3 linked regions of the Homo sapiens genome follow. The protein of the gene in region 3 interacts with the protein of the main gene of each other region in a biochemical or structural test. Each region holds a gene or a part of one and is shown on either strand. Other genes may lie near its edges. The genes, in order: ARL2, ARL3 and PDE6D.

Region 1 (7,692 bases), on a different chromosome or scaffold from region 3:
GAGTGAGAACCTGTCTCAAAAATAATAATAATAATAATAATAATAATAATAATAATGTGAGACCCTGTCTTAAAAATAATAATAATGCCAAATTTTTCTTTCTAGACGTTGGGTAAACATGCCTTGTTAAAAGGCTGTAGATCTCTATCCTCAAGTTACAAGCCACTTACTCGGCCCTAAGAAGTTTCCCCTTCAAAAGCAGGTTTCACAGATGTCACGATTTGGGTATTTTAATTTCACGATTCTTTCTTGTGAAAAAAAAATATATATATATATTCATATTCACAATTATATATAACTACAGCTCTATACATCTTCTTTCCTAGTTTTCTTCCAAAGGTATTTCCCAAAGATTTTATTTAAGAGTGCTCTTCTGCTCCTCTGCTTGAAAGTAAAAAAAAAAGAAAGAAAAAAAGCCAGGTGCATTGGCTCTTGCCTGTAATCTCAGCACTTTGGGAGGCCGAGGTGGATGACTTGAGGTCAGGAGTTTGAGACCAGCCTGACAAACATGGTGAAACCCCGTCTCTACTAAAAATACACAATTAGCCAGGTGTGGTGGTGCACACCTGTAATCCCAGTTACTTGGGAGGCTGAGGCAGGAGAATCGCTTGAACCTGGGAGATGGAGGTTGCAGTGAGCCGAGATTTTGCCATTGCACTCCAACCTGGGCAACAAGAGCAAAACTTCGTCTCAAAAAAAAAAAAAAGAAAAAAAAAGAGCTCTCCTCCTTTCCATGAGGCAAATGAAAACACAGCTCGTAATGAGGCCCCTTACTTGTCTTTAAATGCCTCTCCACCCAATTTCTAGCTACAGTCAGTTCTTCAAAAGTTAAACACAGGCCAAGTGGGGTGGCTCATGCCTGTAATCCCAGCACTTTGGAAGTCTGAGGTGAGAGGATCACCTAAGCACAGGAGTTCAAGACCAGCCCGGGTAACACAGCGAGACCCTCGTCTCTACAAAAAATTTAAAAAATTAGCCGGGCTTGATGGCATGCACCTGTAGTCCCAGCTACTCAGGAGACTGACGTGGGAGGACTGCTTGAGGCTGCAGTGAGCCATGATTGTGCCACTGCACTCCAGCCTGGGTGACAGAGTGAGACCCTGTCTCTAAAATATGTTTAAAAAGTTAAACATAGTTGGCCGGGCGCGGTGGCTCACGCCTGTAATCCCAGCACTTTGGGAGTCCAAGGCTGGCGGATCACGAGGTCAGGAGATCGAGACCATCCTGGCTAACGCGGTGAAACCCCGTCTCTACTAAAAATACAAAAACTTAGCCAGGCATAGTGGCGGGCATCTTTAGTCCCAGCTACTCGGGAGGCTGAGGCAGGAGAATGGTGTGAACCCGGGAGGCGGAGCTTGCAGTGAGCTGAGATTGCGCCACTGCACCCCAGCCTGGGCGACAGAGCAAGACTCTGTCTCAAAAAAAAAAAAAAAAAAGCTAAACATAGTTACTTCCTGAACTCCCCCTTTTTCACAGAGCTTGGATGTTGTTTATTTTTATTTTTTTAATTTATATTCACTGAAATTCTACCATGTGGCCCCTGGGAACAACAGCATGGACAGGCAAGACTTTAAGCCAGACATTTGAACAAGTTCTTTCAATGCTACTGGTAGGAAATAAAACAATCCGAGGCTGGGTGCGGTGGCTCACACCTGTAATCCCAGCCCTTTGGGAGGCTGAGGAAGGCAAATCTCTTGAGGCCAGGAGTTTGTGACCAGCTGGCCAACATGGTGAAACCCTGTCTTTACTGAAAATATAAAAATTAGCCGCGCATGGTGGCTCATGCCTGTAATCCCAGCTACTCAGGAGGCTGAGGCAGGAGAATAGCTTGAACCTGGGAGGCAGAGGTTGCAGTGAGCCAGGATTGTGCCACTGCACTCCATCCTGGGTGACAGAGCCAGACTCTGTCTCAAAGAAAAAAAGAAAATATAGACACACCCAAGGTAATAATTTTATGTTCTCCCAAACTTCATTGCCCTGATTTTCAAACTTTTGTGACTGTGATTCACAGTGAGAAGTACACATATCTGTATAAATATCTAAAACAAATGTTTCACCAAACGCTACTTAGCTTTACTACGTGGGTAAAGGTAGTAATGTTTTCAGTTCTGTTCATTCTATTTCATTTTTGTTAATGCTACTAGGTTGAACCATTTGAAATACATCTGTGTATCAAAACTGTCAAATATGGGCAATTTCATACAGTTCAACCTATTTGTGACACTAATTTTACAATCCACTTCCTTAATGGAATGCATCTCATAGATTAAAAAACATTGCTAAGTGGGCATATTTCCAGTTAATATTATTTTTAAAACTAAAAGAGGACTGAATTTTTGTTTTTGTTTTTCATTTAATATGGCGCGGACATCTTTCCACACTGGTATCTTACAGCTCCACCTCACTGTTTTCTGTTTCTTTGAGACGGTCTAACTCTGTCATGAAAGCTAGAGTGCAGTGGCATGATCACGGCTCACTGCAGCCTTATCCTCCCTGGTTCCCACCTTGGCCTCCTAGGTAGCTGGAACTACCGATGTGCACCACTACACCTAATTTTTTTTTTTTTTTTTGAGACAGACAATTTCGCCCAGGCTGGAGTGCAGTGGCACAATTTCAGCTCACTGCAACCTTCGCCTCCTGGGTTGAAGTGAGCATGTCTGGCTAATTTTTGTATTTTTTATAGAGATGGGAGTCTCCCTAAGTTGGCCAGGCTGGTCTTGAACTCCTGGGCTCAAGCAATCCACTCACCTCTGCCTTCCAAAGTGCTGGGATTAGACATGAGCCACTGCGCCTGGCCCACTTCACTGTTTTAAGGGCTTCATGAATTCACATGCACCTACCCCGGCTCAGGTAACCTGCCCTCACTGGAGGCACTTAGGTTTTTTCCAATTTCTTGCTGTTCCAAACCATGCCACAGTGAACTTCGTTGTTCCTGTGCAGTGCCAGAATGTCTGTGGTGCAGGCTCCTAGAAGCAGGATGGCAGGCTCCTACCTCTAGACATTTCTTTTTTTTTTTTTTTTTTTTTTTTGAGACGGAGTCTCACTCTGTCACCCAGTCTGGAGTGCAGTGGCACAATCTCGGCTCACTGCAACCTCCGTCTCCTGGGTTCAAGCAATTCTCTGCCTCAGCCTCCCGAATAGCTGGGATTACAGGTGCCGCCACCACGCCCAGCTAATTTTTTGTATTCTTAGTAGAGACGGGGTTTCACCATGTTGGCCAGGCTGGTCTTGAACTCCTGACCTCGTGATCCACCTGCCTCGGCCTCCCAAAGTGCTGGGTTTACAGGCGTGAGCCATGGCGCCCGGCCAGCATTTCCCATTTTGATCTTAGCTGCATTTCGAAGCCTCTGGGTAGGCGATATGCTCACTTTCTTCCTTGTGTGTGTGTGATGGAGGGTAAATGGTGCTGACCGAAGGGTCCCACTCAGGCAGCCTATCTGTTCAGCCCTCCTCTGACCACAAGCCCCTTTCTGCAAGATGGGAAGCTCCAGCTTCTTCCAGACCTCTCTCTAGGCAAACTTCATGGAGGCATGAAGACATTGTGCTTTACCATTTACTAGACCTGAGTTTGAATCTCACCCATGCTCCTTAAACACTCTGGATTCCATTATCATAGCTACGAAAAGAATATAAACCTCTCAGGGTTGCAGGGAGGATGAAGCTGAACACGTGAAGTGCGTTGCAAACAGTTACACAGGAGTTAGCTATTGTCCTCAGCTGGTGCTGACAGCTCTTTCCCAAGCATGAGAGAGGCTCTTCCGTGCTGCCTATCCACACTTACCTGCAGCAATAAGGCTGTCTCCTGAGTTTACAAAAGGGCTTGGTCCTTGACCTATTTCCTCACTTCTTCTGGACTTCTTGAGCGCTAAAGTAAAGAATGAAACTCTTGGACAAAGCCATTCATTCAACAACAAATATTTATTGAGCACCTACTACATGCCAGCCACTGTGCTAAGCACCATCTGGGCCTCAGTTTTTCCATCTGCAAAAGTAGGAACTGTGCTTCTGAACAGGGAAACGCTGGGCCTCTGGGTGGGGGCAGCCTTTGGGGCGGGACTGCAATTCCGTCATTGGAACCCAGGGACGCCCCGCATGTTTCCGAACGGCCTCCAGGGGGCACCGCCGCCCTGAACTGAGAGCCACCGGAGCCGGGTAGGGGGAGGCCCAACTTTCCGCTCTGTCAGAGGATGATGCCGAGGGCCCAGATGAGCAGGATTTGGACTGTGTTGCTGGGAACGGGGGCCTACACTGGCCCCAGGATGAGTTCGTCCGTACCTGGGGGCCCTGGGTTCTGACTCTCAGGTCAGACGCAGCCAAGATGCAACTCAGGAACTTCAAGGTTTCCGCTCCGGCCAAGAGCCCCAGTCCGGCAGGGGAAAGGGTGGGGGAGTCGCCCTTGCTCCCCCAGCCTCAGCCCTCGGGAGGCGCAGCGTCAGGGCGGGCGGCAGCACAGAAACCCCCCGCGCCGCTAGAGGGACCCTCGCAGCAGCTGCGCGGGCGACCTCGCGGTCACGTGCGGCAAGGGCGGGACCAAACGAGCGTCCGGCCAATCGACTATGCCGTCGGCGAGCGTGATAGCCAACAGGAACCGGGAGCGGGGTCCCGGGACTGGGAAGAAACGGCGGCCGGGAGGGGGCTCCGGGGACCATGGGGCTCCTGACCATTCTGAAGAAGATGAAGCAGAAAGAGCGGGAGCTGCGACTGCTCATGCTGTATCCTACCGGACGCCGGAACCGCGAGGGTGGCGGGGTCCAGCCGGGCAGGCGGTGCCGGGCGCCCCCTGTCGGGAGCGGAACGCGGCGGCCGGCGCGTCCCAACTGCCCCTGGCGTCACCACGCGGGCCCCATCAATCGCCCCGTCGGGCCGGGAGGAGCCGCACCCCAGGACTGGGGCAGGGGCCAGCTCCGAGGGCCGCAGAAGCGGTCCTGCAGGCGCAGCGGCGGGGCTAGGCGGCCCGAGTGTCAGGGGTGGTGGGTCCCGGAGATAACTCGGACGCCACCACCCGGCGGCCTGGCCCAAGCGTGGGGCCGCTGCCCTCCCGGCTCTGATCTCCTCCCCCGGGCCCGAGGGTTCCAGGCCCCGGCCCCGCCCTCGAGCTCCGAATCCCGGGGGCGTGCGGGGTGGCGGGTGGCGCGTGTGGGCTCCGCGGATCCTTTCGAGCGTGGATCCAACAGTCCGTCTCTTTGGTGTTACGCGGCCCGTGGTTGTCCCTGCGGCTGAGGATGTGTGTGTGTGGGCCCGAGTGTCCCGTGCGCCCTGTGCGCCTTCTGAGTCCAGTTAGGCGCCCGCACCTGTTCCCCCAGCTCTGTGCCAGGCTCCGCGGGGGAATGGCTGGGGAGATAAGACGCTTACGTGCACATATAACTTAATAATCACATCATGACTGTTTTGTTTTTTGAGACAGGGTCTTGCTCTGTTGCCCTGGCTGGAGTGCAGTGGCACAATCAAGGCTCACCGCAGCCTCCAGCTTCTAGGCTTAAGTGATCCTCCTGCCTCAGCCTCCCAAAACTCTGGGAATATAGGCATGAGCCACGGAGTCCGGCCCATGTCTGTTTTATTTTGTTTTGTTTGAGACGGAGTTTCGCTCTTGTTGCCCAGGCTGGAGTGCAGTGGCACAATCTCAGCTCGCTGCAACCTCCGCCCCCCGAGTTCAAGCAATTCTCCTGCCTCAGCCTCCCAAGTAGCTGGGATTACAGGTGCCCGCCACCACGCCCGGCTATTTTTTTAAATATTGTTAGTAGAGACGGGGTTTCACCTTGTTGGTCAGGCTGTTCTCGAATTCCTGACCTCAAGTGATCCACCCGCCTTGGCCTCCCAAACTGTTGGGATTATGGGCGTGAGCCACTGCGCCGGGCCGCATGTCTGCTTTAAAGAGCTCTAAGAAAAGCATACAGTTCACTCATTTGATAAATATTGAGTGCCTAATATGTGCTAGACACTGTCCTAGTGCCCAGGGTAATAAAACTAAAAAATCTTACCTTCATGGAAATTCTGTAATGCGTGTGTGTGTGTGTGGCGGGGGGGTTGCCCGCGGGTAGAAAGATGATAACACAGGAAGTAAGTAAAATATGTAATAGAGGCTGGGTGCGGTGGCACACACCTGTAACCCTAGCACTTTGGGAGGCTGAGGTGGGAGGTTCGCTTGAGCCCAGGTGTTTGAGACCAGCCTGGGCAACATAGTGAGACTCTGTCTCTATTTATACATATATATATTCTCCATACATACTATATATATATGGGCCATGCTTTGGACCATGCTTCTGGGGAACAGGGCCTTATACTGCTCCAGGATGAACTCCCACTACGTATATAGGTATGGAGAATAATGCAATTTAGGGTGGTCAAAGAAGGCCACTGTATGATGGCAGGGCGCAGTGGCTCATGCCTGTAATCCCAGCACTTTGAAAGGCCGGGGCGGATGGATCGCCTGATGTCAGGAGTTTTGAGACCAGTCTGGCCAACATGGTGAAATCCCGTCTCTACTGAAAATACAAAAATTAGCTGGATGTGGTGGTGGACACCTTTAATCCCAGCTACCTGGGAGGCTGAGGCAAGAGAATTGCCAGAACCCGGGAGGCGGAGACTGCAGTGAGCTGAGATCACGCCATTGCAGTCCAGCCTGGGTGACAAGAGCGAAACTCTGTTAAAAAAAAAAAAAATGACAATTGAGTACATGAGGGAGGCGAGGGTTGAACCATATAGCAATTCGGGGGGGGGGGAAACTTTAAAGCAAAGGGAACAGCAAGTCAGAGGCCCTGGGAGGACTAACTGGCGTGTTCAGAGGACTGGTGAGGAGGGCAGTATGGCTGGAGTGGGGAGGAGGAGCGTTGACTGGGAACCCCCTCACCTAGGGCCTTTTGGTTTTTGGTTTTCCCTTTCAGTGAGAAGTGCAGTGGAGAGAAGGAATCGCAGACCAGTTAGGCCACTGCAGTGACGCAGGCGAGATAGGATGGTGGCTTGGACCAGGATGGAAGTAGTGAGGTCATGGAAGTTTCTGGCCTGAGCAATTAGAAGGGTGAGGAACCATTTGCTGAGATGGAGAGGACTGGGGGAGGAGCAGGTTCAGGGTGGAGATGAGAACCCTGTGTGTGCCTGTGTGTGCCATGTGAGATGCCTCCGAGACAGCCCAGAAGTGTCAGGCAGGCAGCTGGATGTAGGCACTGAGGTCCAGTGTGTGGGAGGTGCACATTTGGGTGTTATCAGGATAGAGATGGTATTTGAAGCTGTGATCCTGGATGAGGTCACCCAGGGATGAGCGTGGCCAGAGAAGAGAACCCGGTTGTACCAGGATGAAGTCAGGTGAGGAGCAGAACCAGGTGAGGGTGTGTCCCAGTGCCAAGGGCAGCGCATGTGCTGGGGAGGAGGGTGAGCCACTCCATCAGGTGCTGAGTGGGGAACAGAAGATGACTGAGCGCTGTCCCAGCACTAGAGGGCCACAGGGAGGTCTTTGGGGACTGACCTTGGTAAGGACAGTTTTGGCCACAGCAGCAGCAAAAGCCTGATGGGAGTGTGTTCTTGAAAGAGCAAGAAGGCAGAAATGGGGGTGAGCACAAACAACTATTTTGAGATTTCCTGTAAAAGGAAAGATATAAATGAATAACTAGATGGGGCAGAGAGATCAAGGGCTTTGTTTGCTCTTTTTTTTTTTTTAATCAGACGGGGTCTCGCTGAGTCGCCCAGGCTGGAGTACAG
Region 2 (7,938 bases), on a different chromosome or scaffold from region 3:
AACCCAGGAGGCGGAGGTTGCAGTGAGCCGAGATTGTGCCACTGTACTCCAGCCTGGGCAACAGAGTGAGACTCTGTCTCAAAAAAAAAGAAGCTGAGGCCGGGCACGGTGGCTCATGCCTGTAACCCCAGTGCTTTGGAAGGCTGAGGCGGGCGGATCACGAGGTCAGGAGTTTGAGACCAGCCTGGCTAACATGGTGAAACCCTGTCTCTACTAAAAATACAAAAAATTAGCCGGGCGTGGTGGCAGGCGCCTGTAATCCCAGCTACTTGGGAGGCTGAGGCAGGAGAATCACTTGAACCCGGGAGGTGAAGGTTGCAGCGAGCCGAGATGGCGCCACTGCACTCCATCTTGGCAACATAGCAAGACCCTGTCTCAAAAAAAAAAAAAAAAAAAAAAAAGAAGCCGAGAAAAGGAAGCCCCCAAAGATGGGAAGAACCACCAGAAAGAAGAGAGAAAGGAGGTGGAGACAGGCACAGGCCTGTAATCCCAGCACTTTGGGAGGCCAGGAGTTCAAGTTCAAGAAAGGAGGCAGAAGGGACAGTGTTGGGGAAGGAAGAGCAGTGGTCAATTTTTAGATTTTTCGTTAAGGCGGAAGAGACATCAGGAAGCTGATATGCTGGAGGTACGCCATTTCCTAAGAGGAAAGACCAGGAACAAGAGGAGAGGCTCAATATGGAGTATCCACAGCGCCCTGGCCTGGCCCCGATGCTTCTCTGAAGCGGCAATCTCCAGAGAAGTCAGAAGGCAGACAGAAAGAGTCCACTGCCAAAACAGACTTCCCCTCTCCCTGCCACCTGGCCTCCTGCAGGCTGCTTCAAAGACCAAAGGCATTTATCTCAGTCCCAGCTGAAGCAAGAGTGGGAGGAGGGGAAAGAGTTCACTTTCCCATGCTCTACATGAACCTAAAAGGAGTCAGCTTGGCTGGCTGAACACACGCTGCCTTGGCTTACAGAGCCCCAGGCTCATACATGCTGGAGACAGCCTGACTGAGCAAAATGCTATGCCTCCCCCTCAGCACACACATACACACAGAGCCAGACCTTCTCTGACATCTCTGTTCACCTTAACACAACATTGCAAAGTCCTCTGCTTCTCAGAATGGAGGGACTATCATCAAGGGGTAATCTAAACATTTGCTAATTATGCAAGAGCCTTTGCCTTCTTAATTGAAGTCAGGATAGAAACTGCAGAGTCCCTGTCTTAAATAAAACATAAAGCCAAAACAAAAACAAAACAAAAAAAACACTAAACGATCTGTCTGGAACATTTCCCCCCACACACCCACTGTCCCCCAATGGGCACTCTTCCCCGACTCCTTCAGGACAAACTCAAATCCTTCTGTGATATATACTCCTACAGCATCCTGTCCTTTGCAGCATGCTGGGCGTTTGTGATTGTCACCTTCTTGTCATTGACTGTGATTTGTGTAAAGTCTGCCTCCCCTGACAGACTGTAAGGCTCACAAGCATCGGGATCATGTCTGTGATGTTTACTGCTACATGTTTCACATGCCCTCGAAGAATATTTACTGCTTACCTGAAATGCATTCCAACTTCTTCTTGGGTCTCTTGGCATCAAGGATGTCACCTCTTTTAAGTCAAACTTAGAACCTGCCTAGGTTACAGAATTAAGAGCACGCTTTCTTTCATGAAGTTGCAAAACTGTCTACCTTGCCTGTACTAAGTCATACTGGTCTCTAAATTTTCTTCTACAGTTACTGTCCCTCCTCCCACACAAGCCACATCTAGTCTTCCCTAAAAAGGTCATCATCATGTCCAGGGTAGCCCCACTTCTGTATGGTCCCACTACTAGGAACAAAGTAGGAGTAAAAATCAGACCAGTGATTTAATGATATCTCCCTCCTAGGATTAGAGAATGTCACAGCTTGAGGCCGGGCGCAGTGGCTCACGCCTGTAATCCCAGCAATTTAGGAGGCCGAGGCGGACGGATCACGAGGTCAGATCGAGACCATCCTGGCTAACCCTGTGAAACTCTGTCTCTACTAAAAATACAAAAAATTAGCCAGGCGTGGTGGCACGCACCTGTAATCCTAGCTACTCAGGAAGCTGAGGAAGGAGGATCGCTTGAACCCGGGAGGCGGAGGTTGTAGTGAGCCAAGATCGCACCACTGCACTCCAGTCTGGGTGACAGAGCGAGACTCCGTCTCCACAAAAAAAAAAAAAAAAAAAAAAGAGAGAGAGAATGTCATAGCCTGAAGACATGTGATCTAAGATCTCAGTTTACAGAAGAGGAAACTGAAGCCTAGAAAGGTGCACATGGATTGGGCCACCACAGTGGGCATTTTTGATACACTTGGCCCTGCACTAAGCGCTTGCAGCAGATATAAACACGAACAATCAACAGATCCAGTCCTCAAAGATTGGACAACAGCTAAGGCCTTACTTCCCCAAGGTCCTCTATCCACTATAGCCTACTTGCCAACTCCGAGGCCTGGCACGGTGGCTCACACCTGTAATCCCAACACTTTGAGAGCCCAAAGCAGAGAGATCACCTGAGGTTGAGAGTTCAAGACCAGCCTGACCAACATGGAGAAACCCCCGTCTCTACTAAAAATAAAAAATTAGCCAGGCGTGGTGGTGCATACCTGTAATCCCAGCTACTTGGGAGGCTAAGGCAGGAGAATCGTTTGAACCCGAGAGGTGGAGGTTGTGATGAGCCGAGATCGCACCGTTGCACTCCAGCCTGGGCAATAAGAGTGAAACTCCATCTCAAAAAAAAAAAAAAAAAAAAAAAGGAAAGAAAGAGAGGGAAACAAAGAGAAAAAAAAAGTAATAGACTACTGCCACCTCTGACGTAATGCTCATCCTTCCCAGAAAGAGCAGATTTTCTCTGGCAAATGGTATCAGAGATCAGAAAACAAGCTTCCAAATTCCTTCTGAGGTATCCTCTTACAAGCAGAAGTGCACAAGATTACTGTTTGTAGCCCCAGGTAGGGAGAAAAACGAAACATCATCGCTGGTACTCACATCAGAGGAAGATCAAGGTAGCCAAAGACCCCAGAAGGTCAGACACAAAGACCACTGAGACAGGCAAGGATTAAGGTCAAGGCTGCCTAGAGCAAGCTGGAAAATGAGGGTAATAATTACAAGAGCAGGCCCAGGTATAGGCTTATGGGTACTCGTCTGACTCCAAGGCAAGTGGGCTGTTAGGCACCAGACAACTTAGAAAGAGCAACCTCCCTTGCCTTTTTCACAAAAGGGCCAACAGTCTGGAGATGAGTAGATTATAGGGGTTTGTGCTCCTGTATCACCTCCATTCATCACCTCCTTAGTCAAGGCTCTGAACTGCTTTTTCTCTCCAAGGATCTGAAGCAGGTATGCAAGCAGCAGATGTTGATTTTTGTTTTCATTTTTTTTTTTTTTTTTGAGGCAGGGTCTTGCTCTTTCACCCAGGCTGGAGTACAGTGATGTGATAATAGCTCCTGGGCTCAAGCAATCCTCCAGCCTCAACCTCCCGAGTAGCTAGGACTACAAGTGCGCCACGGAACCTGGCTAATTAAAAAAAATTTTTTTTTGTAGAGGCAGGGTCCTACTGTGTTGCCCGGGCTGGTCTCCAACTCCTGGGCTCAAGCCTTCCTCCCCTTCCACCTCTCAAAGTGCTGGGATTATAGGCATGAGCCACTGCGCCTGGCCGCAATTACCAATTTCTAGGGGTTGTGAAAATGAAATTTGGTATGAAATGTATTTCATTAGGAAGGATGTAATTTCCATACGGGCTGATTTTGTCCACTGCTGTGTCTCCAGCGTCTAGAACAGGGCCTAGCACGTTTGTGTAAACTCTTCTTATAGTCCTCTGCATCGGGAAAGGGATGGGAGGTAGCACTTCCCAACCCACCCCAGTGTCCCACTTGCTCTTCCTTGGCTAAAAATGCAGGCTCATTTTTGCCTCCTCCAGGACTACAGATGGTACGCGGTCCTGTCCAAAGCAGCTTAGCAAAACCGGCCAGAGGCTGGGCACAGTGGCTCACCACTTTGGAACACCTGTAGTCTCAGCACTTTGGGAGGCCTAGGCGGGCGGATGGCTTGACCCCAGGAGTTCGAGCCCAGCCTGGGCAACATGGCGAAACTCCGTCTCTACAAAAACAAAATACAAAAAATTATCCAGGCGTGGTGGCGCCCGCCTGCAATCCCAGCTACTCGAGAGTCTGAGGCGGGAGAATCGCTTAAGCCTGTGAGGCAAAGGCTGCAGTGAGCCGAGATCGCGCCACCGCACTCCGGCCCGGGCGACAGAGCGACACCCTGTGTCAAAACAAAAACCGGGCCGATCCCCAAAACGCCTTTCACCTGTGCTTTCAGCTCACCTCAGGGCTCAGGGCCAGCCCCCAGGCTGCTTCTTGCCCTCCGACAGACGGCCTCCCCCCATCGGTACTCCCCCATCCCGGACAGCTCGTAACGCCCCAGCCGCTCGGCCTGGCACTCCTAGGCAATGGGGGTCAGAGCAGAGGGGCCCATCTGCAGCCCCAGGGCGCACTTCGCGCCACGTGGCTTCTGCAGGTGGAAGTCCAGCCCGCGCTGCAGCCCCGCCTGGGCAGTCAGGACAGCAATCTCAGCACCCACCCGAGATGTGGGGATTGGAGGTAGACAGGGCGAGCGCCATTGTCCCAAGGCCCCTTACCTGGTCCCGGGACAAATGCCACCAGTTACAGCCCGCCTTGAAAACTGGCCCGGGTGAGAGGAGGACCTGGGCTGGGGAACTGCCCCCACGCCCGCCCCACGCCCCTCCTTTTCGACCAATCCCAGGCCGGGAGGCTCCCGCCAGCCACGTGGGCAGGCTTTCTCCACTCCCTGGTCCAGGCGAGCCGGCGGCGGCCTCTGCAGCTCCCGTAGCCCGCCCACTGCGTGGGCGGGCGCCTTAGCGCACTTGCGCACTCTGGGGAAAGCGGAGCTGCACCCCGCCCCGTATTGCTGCTCAGCTCCTCAGCTGTGCGTGCGAGGGACGTCGGGGGCGGCGCCGCAGCAGTTGCCCCTGGTAACGGGGGAGGCAGCAGGAGGAGGAGGAGGAGGAGGGACTCGGCGGGAGGATGGTGAGTGTGGGGGCCTGGGCCCCCTTGGAGCCGGCCGGTTATCCCCCTCCCGTCCCCAGGCCCAGGGCGGAGCACTGCGCTTAAAGCCAAGGAGGGAATGGGACGTCGCTCAGCCTGCTATCTGGGTTGTGGACTGATTTCGGGGGTCGGCGGGGAGACCCGAGGGTGGGCCCTGGAGGGAGGCCTGGGCCTGGAGAGGAAGGCGGGGCTTGCAGCGGGTCCGAGGCTTGGGGAAGGGGCTGGCAGAGTGCGCGGCTGGCCGGGTGCGGAGCCCGGGCTCCATCATTACTCTGGGGACAGGGGTGAGGGCGGATCCCAGGAACTGCGGAGAGCAGCTTTCGCTAGCAGGCTTAGACTTCCCGGGCAATCGGTCTCGCGGCTTTGCAGTAAAGTGGGGTTCGTCTGGAGCCCGGCCAGAAGCGGAGAGAAGGCCGGCCCCATTGGCTCTGAGGTCGCCCTGGCGGTAGCAGGGGAGATGGTAGCCTAGCTCTCCTCCTTCTCGCGCTGTGCGGGCCCCTGGGGGGTAGGGAAGTAAGTCCCACGACACAAAGGGGTGCCGCTTGGAAGGGATGCCTGGTGGATTTTACGCCGTCTTGGTGTCTGCGTGGCGGGTGCGCTTCCTCAGTCCCGAATTATTTAGTTATTTGCTGAGAGTTTTGCAGGATCTGATTGTTGGTGATGACCGATTTTTCATTCAATACATAATCCATGTTGATGAAGACATATTAGCTGCTCCGTCTCTAGAATTTCCTTCGAAACCTTTTGCAGTCTCCTCTTGCGTGTGACCATACCAGGACCAAAAGATCTTAATCCTAGCTTGAGTTCTCCAAACTGAAAAGAACGAGAAGTTAAAAATGGAGATCGAACTTCAATCCGGGGCAAGGCTTTTCTCTGTCAGTCCCAATTAAAGCTTTCCCAAATTCTAAATTATGGTTGTGACAGATCTGACCGTTGACACTCTGTTTCTTGTTAATGTCTGTACAGTTAGTTGGAGGGAGTTAAAATGGAATTGAGTAATTTTAGAGCTATCAAAGAAAAATTGATTTTGAACACTTAAAGCAGGTTAGTTGGCTGCAAAGAGCCTGTCATCAAACTTATAGTCACTGCTCCAACTCTCTTCCTAGTTCCTTTCTTGACTTTTAGAAATGTTGAGCCATTTCTGTTGATTTAAGAAGTAAAAAAAAAAACAAAAAAACTAGATGCCCAGGAAAAAAAAAAATAGATGTATGTTTGGTCAGATTATCCAGTGAGTAGATTTAGAAAGGAAAAAAAAAACTCAATTGATTTTACATTGTCAGATTGTTAAAGAAGTAGGGTTATTTGATCTGAAGTTGCCAATCACATTTCACACTTGCTACACTTGCAGTTTTTTTTTAACCTCAGGCTAAACAGATTTTTACAACTGTTTCTTTTTCTTAATCATTTATACGTGAGCTGTCCTTTTAAAGTTAAAGTTTTTCTCAACAAATGAGTACAAACATAAATATTTACCCAGAAAATAGCTAGAATTGGAATGAAAAGGGCATGCCGAACCAACAGAGATTGAGATTCATCATTATGGATGAGAAGTGCATGAGAGTTGGCTAACTTTTCCCAGTTTGTTGATCAATTAAGTGTACTGTGTAATCCATGATTGTTTAATTTATAATTACAGGCCACAGTAAATTAACCACTGCCCATGTTTCCAGGTGCAAATTGGCACAGTATACAACAAATTTACAGTGTATATACAACACTGTTGTATACAACTGTTGTGTTCAATGATGAAAACAGATTTTGTTTTTCTTTTTTCCTTTTTCCTAAGATGAACAATAAGAAATTAAGACAAATTATTCCGGATTCTTTATCTGGTTTCCCAAAAACATTTTTTTTCTATCTCCACAAGCGTGAGCTGTTCTTAAAACTTGAAGTGAAACACTGAATTTAGTCAGTCGTGTGACTTAAGTGTATCCCATCTGGTATCCCATGAGCCCCCATGGTTAACTGTACAACTGAAGCGTGAACCCCAAGGTTTTTTTGGTTTTTGTTTTAAACTTCAGCTGTGACAAATACATATTTTTTTTCAAATTTGGGTAACTGTGGCAAAAACCCAAATATGGGTTTCTCTGAACATTTAGAGTCAGCTATTTTACCCCTGCTTTACAGTGCCAGGTTCTTGATGAATTACTAAAATACTAAAATGACAGTAATTTTAGCACGTAACTAACCACTTATATTTAACATATGATTCCTTCATTCAGTAATTATTTATGGAGCACTTTCTACATATATGGAGCTTGTGGTCGTTCTCAAGCATGTTCAACATTTGAAGATTGTTCCCAACAGTTACTTATGTTTTCTGGTTAGAAAATGGCCCGTGAAAAATTATTTTAAAAAAATAAACAAAACACGAGGGTAGTCTTTTCAGTGGCTGTTATGTGTCATGCTTTACATACATGACCTCATTTCATCCTCATAGCATCATCTCTTGAGATGTAAGTATTGTTCCTGTTTTCTTCTTTTTTTTTTCTTTTTTTGAGACGGAGTCTTGCTCTGTCACCCAGACTGGAGTGCAGTGGCGCGATCTCCGTTCACTGCAAGCTCCGCCTCCCGGGTTCACGCCATTCTCCTGCCTTAGCCTCCGCAGCAGATGGGACTATGGGCGCCCGCCACCACGCCCGGCTAATTTTGTGTGTGTGTGTTTTTAGTAGAGACGGGGTTTCACCATGTTAGCCAGGATGGTCTGTATCTCCTGACCTCGTGATCCGCCCGCCTCGGCCTCCCAAAGTGCCGGGATTACAGGCGTGAGCCACCGCGCCCGGCCTGTTCCTATTTTCTAGCTGAAACTGTGTGCAGTGTTATGTATATACATATATATATATAAAAACACACACACACATACATATATATAC
Region 3 (7,101 bases):
TAGCTGGGACTACAGGCGCACACCACCACGCCCAGCTAATTCTTGTATTTTTAGTAGAAACGGGGTTTCACCATGTTGGCCAAGATGGTCTTGATCTCTTGACCTCGTGATCCGCCCGCCTCGGCCTCCAAAAGTGCTGCAATTACAGGCGTGAGCCACGACGCCCAGCCGAGACTTTTCTCGTATAGCAGCAAAACCTAGACAGAATCTCTCCAGAGGGTAAAATATAGTGTTATTACACACATGATGATTCCAGTCAGCTGTGTTGTTTAGGGTTCTTCACTGCAAGCTATTCAAACAATGGGAAAGGGTATCTGAGGCTTTTGGAGCTGCCTGGAAGTTGAAGGACAGGGTCTGTAGCAAAGACCACACAGTAGGAAAGGGCAGGTTGGCATGCCCCTGCTGCCCCCACCCTGAAGAACTTCCAACTCCCTCGAAAGTCCTGTAGCTTCAGGACCCCAGAACTGGGTAGCACGTGTCCAAGGCTAGGCCTTCTTGTGCTCACCCCTGATTATGCCAGGGCTGGGAGAAAAGGATCTGGCCTTTCTAGCTGCTGTAGTGCAAAGCAGTCACTGCCTTCCACAAGGTAGAGACTCTCTTCTTTGGGAAGAGAGTCTGATCACAAGATAGCAAAAAAAGAAAACCAAAAAAAAGACACATGTAAACTATATCTATATTATACATATATTTATCTGCAGCTCAGTCTCTTCGCAAATATTAACGATCTTTTGCAGACAGCCTCTGTGCTTGCATAATGTTAATTTTCTTTTCCTTTAATGGTTTGTCAATTGTTTTTTAAAACAAAACAAAAAAAACCTTAGCACTCTCTTCTTAAAGTTAGTCTTTATTTTTATTAAGTTGTATGTGTTCATCATTTAAAGAATCATAGTCAGCCGGGCAAGGTGGCTCACACCTGTAATCGCAGCACTTTGGGAGGCCAAGGCAAGCGGATCACCTGAGGTCGGGAGTTTGAGACCAGCCTGAACAACATGGAGAAACCCCATCTCCAGTTAAAAATACAAAAATTAGCCGGGCATGGTGGTGCATGCCTGTAATCCCAGCTACTCAGGAGGCTGAGGCAGGAGAATTGCTTGAACCCAGGAGGTGGAGATTGCAGTGAGCCAAGATCATGCCATTGCACTCCAGCCTGGGCAACAAGAGCGAAACCATCTCAAAAAAAAAACAAAAAACACAGTCTATCTAGTTTCTAATGAAGAGCACCACTCCCTGTCCCCCTATTTTCTACTCCCCAGAGAAAACTATTTTCAATCCTTTTTAGCTTATTTATTTGGTATTCATCTTGGTATTTCTAAAAAGCAAAATGTGGCTATGTCGTAATGTTTCCATTTTAGCATTATTTATCCACTTTCCACTACGGAAAATGACAGTTTTGTTGTTTCTCAACATTTCGTGCCTGACTATCCAGATATACATACTCTTGTTCCCCCATCCTCCCAGGTAAATTATATTGGGTGTTAGCATGTGCTTTCATTGTTATGACCATATCAGCACTACTTGCAATGAAGCCATGAGTTATACTATGACTACTTTTTTCTTCCAGTACTACCTTTAATTTTTCTTGATGTCAGTACTTGGATTTTTGTCATTTGCTTAGATTTTCTGTGCTTCTCATGAATTTGACCCCAAAATCTCCCTCTAATTGTATAAATCTCCTTTCCATATAAACACACTAGGTATTCTATGAATTTTATCTTTTTAAAAGAAAATCTCTTCCTGAGCTTTGTGACCTGCTCTAGCCTGGACCCTGGACTAGTCACTCTCCAGACCTGTTAAAGAGCTATTGTCTTGGGATCTTCCTTCACTGTCACTCAGGGGACTCCCTTCAGCTGTTTCTTGCTTGCTATATCCCATGTCATCCCCTTTCTTGGTTTTCTCTGTCATTTTGATGAAGCCATATTTTCCTTAGTTTCTTAAGAAAGCAAATATTTTTTAGTTTGTTTCAGGAATTGTTTCCCTGAAAATTTTAAAGGCCCTGCTAAGTTGTCTCCTACCCTCCAGGGTTCCTTTTGAATTTGATTTATTCTGATTTTTTTTCCTATTCTGATTTGACCCTTTGTATAATGACTTGTTTAACCTCTGGAAGCTTTTCGCTTTTCTTTATCTTTGATATTCTGTAAATGCACTAATGATGTGACTTGGGCATTTGCTACACCCTTTTTTTTTTTTTTTTTTTTTTTTTGAGACAGGGTTTCGCTCTTGTTGAGGCTGGAGTGCAATGGCGCAATCTCCCGGGTTCAAGTGATTCTCCTGCCTCAGCCTCCTGAGTAGCTGGGATTACAGGCAGGCACCACCACGTCTGGCTAATTTTGTGTTTTCGGTAGAGATGGGGTTTCTCCATGTTGGTCAGGCTGGTCTCGAACTCCCGACTTCAGGTGATCCGCCCGCCTCAGCCTCCCAAAGTGCTGGGATTACAGGTGAGCCATCGCTCCTGGCCTAGACACTTTCCATCTACGAAATTTTCTTGAATTAATTTATTGATGCCATCCTCCCCTCTGTTCTCTCTGTTCTACCTTTCTAGAACTTCTATTAGTTAGACACTAGAACTCTTGGACTATTCTTGGACTATAAGTTTTTGTGCCTTTACTCTCCTTTTTTTTTTTTTTTTTTTTTTTGAGACAGGGTCTCCCTCTGTCGCCCAGGCTGGAGTGCAGTCGCATGATCTCGGCTCACTGCAGCATTGATTTTGTGGACTCAGGCAATCCTCTCACCTCAGCCTCCAGAGTAGCTGGGACCACAGGCATGCACCACCATGACTTGTTAATTTTGTATTTTTGTAGAGATGGGGTTTCACCATGTTTCCCAGGCTAATCTCAAACTCCTGAGCTCAAGGAATCCACCCACCTCAGCCTCCCAAAGTGCTGGAATTACAGGTGTGAGCCACCACACTCAGCCTGCTCTCCTGTTTTCTATCCTTGCCTTTTTCGTTCTGAAAGCTTTCTTCAATTTTGTCTTTGTGTTGAGTTGTTTGGTTCTGCTATCAAAATATATGTGTTTCTAGAGTTCTTTTTTGTTCTCTGAATATTCTTTTTTAAATTGGTATTATTGACTCATTTAATGTATGAAACAATACAGAAACTAGAAAATATAAATACTTATGTTAGAAGGCATTTTCTGACAGAGAACATCAGTTAACCAGCTTCATAAGTTGTAACCTCAAACCAGAGAAATTCACCTAAAATATACAGAATTTTATTATATTAATTTTTAGTGTCTGTAAAGGTTATGTCTTATCTCTCTTTTTTAATGCTCCTTTTTAAAACTTATGTCTTTATCTGTAAGCCTCTTTATTCTTCTAAGTTACTTTTTTCTTTTAGTTTGTTTTGGTCTGTCTTTCATAATAAATGCTTTCTTAAATTTCTGTTGATACTTGGCTATCTTCTCATATTTAAAAACAGGGCACTCAGAGGCTGAGGCAGACAGATCACTTGAGGTCAGGAGTTCGAGACCAGCCTGGCCAACATGGTGAAACCCCATCTCTATTAAAAATACAAAAATAAGCTGGGCTTGGTGACGTGCTCCTATAATTCCAGCTACTCAGGAGGCTGAGGCACAAGAATTGCTTGAACCAAGGAGATGAAGGTTGTAGTGAGCCGAGATTGTGCCACTGCATTCCAGCCTGTGTGACAGAGTGAGACTCTGTTTCAAAAAAAAAAAACAGAGGGGGCCACTACAAAGCAATTTGAGAGTTCTGTGCTTGTGGGTGAAGTTTATGGACTGTGGCATTCACTATAGAGTGATCTTCATGAGTTGTTTCCTTGGGGTACATCTGATATTTGTTTCTTTAGGTATTTTATCTTGGTTGGTCAGATCCTGTTGGTAAATTTTAAATTTTGCACTATTCGTTTTCTGTCCCTTTCTTGCAGTCTCTAGGTGTGTGCAGTCTTAGGATTCTCATAGATAAAAGTAACTTCTCTAGGTTTCTGCTTCTTCCTTTAGATGTCTTTTTGACTCTCCTCACATTCTTATGTGCTTCCATGGCAATGAGCAGTTTGACAAACTTTTTAAAAAGTAAACAAGAGTTGGTGGGAGTAAACATGAGACACCTAGAATACAAAGTGGGAGTCACTTTCAGTGCCTTATTTTTCCTTAGTCATATTTGATCAGAAATTGGATGAACCTTCGGGATGCTGAGACAGGGAAGATACTCTGGCAAGGAACAGAAGACCTGTCTGTCCCTGGTGTGGAGCATGAAGGTACTTTCCAACCCTTTATCTACACAGGGCTGTGACCAATGCCAGACTAGCACCTGAGCATAAGAGAGCTAAGTTAACACATACCTAATAGGCGGGTGAGCCCCTGAAGACACAGCATGTTAATCCATGTGTTGTTGACAGTTTCAGTTACTTTCTTTTTTTTTTTTTTTTTTTTTTTTTGAGACACAGTCTTGCTCTATCACCCAGGCTGGATGGAATGCAGTGGTGTGATCTTGGCTCACTGCAACCTCTGCTTCCCAGGTTCCAGCGATTTTCATGCCTCAGCCTCCCGAGTAGCTGGGACTACAGGCGTGCGCCACCACATCTGGCTAATTTTTGTATTTTGAGTAGAGATGGGGTTTCACCATGTTGGCCATCCTGGTCTCGAACTCCGGACATCAAGTGATCTGCCCGCCTCAGCCTCCCAAAGTGCTGGGATTACAGGTGTGAGCCACCACGCCCAGCCAGTTACTTTCTTAACAGTTCTTTCTCTCACTTCCCAAAACCCATTTTGTGCTGATATTTTACCATTAGAACATACCCAAAGATAGAAACTAAGATCTCAACTTTTTCTCCAAAAGAAAATTTGCATTTTTATCTCCCTGAAGTAAAGAAGAAGGAAGGGGTTAAAATCACCAGAACAGAGTAGAGAGAAGGTACCCATGCAGCCCCCTTCCTGATGAGAGTAGTTAGATGAGGCCCTTAGATGCACAAAACCTGGTGTTCCTTGAAGATCTAATATCTTTCAGATACGGGTGACCAATTAGAGACCTCTGCTTTCAGCCACACAAAGTGTAATGCACTTACCAAGGCATTATCCAAAATGTAAGAAAGTGTTCTCTAAATCAGCTGTAAGAAAGTGTTCTCTAAATCAGCTGTAAGAAGCTCCCAGAAATTTGAAGCATCATAGTCCTGTGGTTTTCATTTAGAAAGGCTTCAACATTTGTTTTTCTCTTACCAGCCCGTGTTCCCAAGAAAATCCTCAAGTGCAAGGCAGTGTCTCGAGAACTTAATTTTTCTTCGACAGAACAAATGGAAAAATTCCGCCTGGAACAAAAAGTTTACTTCAAAGGGCAATGCCTAGAAGGTATTCTGCTGCCTACATGCCTGAAATCAGGGCTTAGGGCGACCAGGACAAAAGGCAACAATACCCAGTGAACTAAAGCAGTGCTTTGATAACATTCCTTTTACAACTCAGTTTGTGGTAGGATTCCTACACTCTGCAAGACTGTGAATCCCCAGTGAAACAAACCAAAACAAAGCTAGCCACTACAAGGGGCTTTGAGGTCTCTGACACTGGGAGCGTGGATGGTGGTGCCTGGTTTAGGCACTGACGTTGTATTGTGATATGATCATGGAGGAAGCTGCTATGAGCAGGGCCTAGTACAGTGCTCTACATACAGTATCATACAGATTTGACTGGCAAGGCCACTCTGCATTGAATTCTCACCATGCAGTGTAAAGGGCACATAAGCCCCTTCAAGCTAATTCCAAGTGAATTTAACTATGTATCTATATATAGTTCACATCTAGCCTACCTCTAAGAAAATGCTGCTTATATTGTGTCCTGCTCGCTGGTCCTAGTCCTTTAGACCTCAAAGCATGAGAAGCAAGCCTTTGGTGTGGTTCAGAGGACAACCTGAGCAGGCTTCCCTGTCTTTTTTACGCCCCTGGTCTGAGAGGTTGCTGATAGCTTCCTTTGGTGGTTCTCAGGGTAGGAAGAGGCTCACTCTAGAGAGGGAGACAAAGAGCCCTTAAACTTTATACTGGGGCACCTGCTCACCCCGGCTTTTCCTTCTTCCTTCAGAATGGTTCTTCGAGTTTGGCTTTGTGATCCCTAACTCCACAAATACCTGGCAGTCCTTGATAGAGGCAGCACCCGAGTCCCAGATGATGCCAGCAAGCGTCTTAACGTGAGTGAGCAGGTCTCAGGAAATTATGAAGTGTGTCTAGAAACAGGCATTCCAGGCAGGTGGGACTCCTGGTGCCATTCAGTGGGCAGAGAGCTCGGTTGAGAAATAGAGTAAAAGAGTATCCAAGGGTATCTAGGTTTCCAGGTTCCTGACCTTTTTCATATGAAAAAGACAGTATGATAGAGTAGAAAGAATAAAAAACTAAAAATAAAAATAAAACTTTAGATTAAACCAGATTTAAATTCCTGATTCACCCTGACTACCTGTGTCATCTTGGGCACTAATATACTTTATCTCTCTGAGCCTTAGTCTTTCATCTCTAAACACAGAAATTAATTCTGTCTTACAGAGGTGTAATGAAGATAAAATGTGATGACATGGAAGGAGACTGGCATTTAATATATATACCGAATCTATGTTAATTTGCTCCCATTCCTGACTACCGTACTTCCGGTATCTCTGTATTTTGTTTAGATCACCTTTAACAGAATCTGGCAAAGTCCTATTAATAATTCTGTTTTCGAGGATACTACTTGGTTACAGTTTTTTGGAGAATGGCTTACCATATTAATAGCTTTGGTTCCTGTTCCAAGAACAATTTGTTTGTGCTTTTTCCAAAAACACTGTCAATAACTTCCTACCTCCCATTGTCTGTGGGAAAGATGTTAGTCTCTCAAATGTTATAGTAATAGTACCTTCTAAAGAGTTAGCTGGGCGTAATGGCACACACCTGTAATCCCAGCTACTCAAGAAGCTGAGATAGGAGAATTGCTTGAACCCAGGAGGTGGAGGTTACAATGAGCCAAGATCATGTCACTGCATTCCAGCCTGGGTAGCAGACCAAGACTCTATTTCAAAAAAAAAAGAGTTAGTCCCACAGATAATTGTGTAATATTGGATCATCTCTTTCAACAGTTCCTTTATGAAAGCCATATTGAATTTGTTAAAAATTGAGGTTATTGACTTTAAGGTTT

The links.
Region 1: the proteins of PDE6D (region 3) and ARL2 are reported together in a solved structure, tested with the Homo sapiens proteins (2 studies listed by BioGRID and IntAct, with this or other methods).
Region 2: the proteins of PDE6D (region 3) and ARL3 interact in a biophysical measurement, tested with the Homo sapiens proteins (one study listed by IntAct).

Annotation. Positions count from the first base shown.
Region 1 is NC_000011.10:65,009,561-65,017,252, forward strand, and holds the start of ARL2 (ADP-ribosylation factor-like protein 2), read left to right. Parts: upstream 1-4,599; 5' UTR 4,600-4,647; coding exon 4,648-4,712; intron 4,713-7,692. UniProt on the Homo sapiens protein: Small GTP-binding protein which cycles between an inactive GDP-bound and an active GTP-bound form, and the rate of cycling is regulated by guanine nucleotide exchange factors (GEF) and GTPase-activating proteins (GAP).
Region 2 is NC_000010.11:102,711,382-102,719,319, reverse strand, and holds the start of ARL3 (ADP-ribosylation factor-like protein 3), read left to right. Parts: upstream 1-4,922; 5' UTR 4,923-5,044; coding exon 5,045-5,047; intron 5,048-5,158; exon of another isoform or gene 5,159-5,522; coding exon of another isoform or gene 5,523-5,525; intron 5,526-7,938. UniProt on the Homo sapiens protein: Small GTP-binding protein which cycles between an inactive GDP-bound and an active GTP-bound form, and the rate of cycling is regulated by guanine nucleotide exchange factors (GEF) and GTPase-activating proteins (GAP).
Region 3 is NC_000002.12:231,736,213-231,743,313, reverse strand, and holds part of PDE6D (retinal rod rhodopsin-sensitive cGMP 3',5'-cyclic phosphodiesterase subunit delta), read left to right. Parts: intron 1-2,207; exon of another isoform or gene 2,208-2,357; coding exon of another isoform or gene 2,358-2,435; intron 2,436-4,111; coding exon of another isoform or gene 4,112-4,125; coding exon 4,126-4,214; intron 4,215-5,175; coding exon 5,176-5,301; intron 5,302-6,021; coding exon 6,022-6,127; intron 6,128-7,101. UniProt on the Homo sapiens protein: Promotes the release of prenylated target proteins from cellular membranes. Modulates the activity of prenylated or palmitoylated Ras family members by regulating their subcellular location.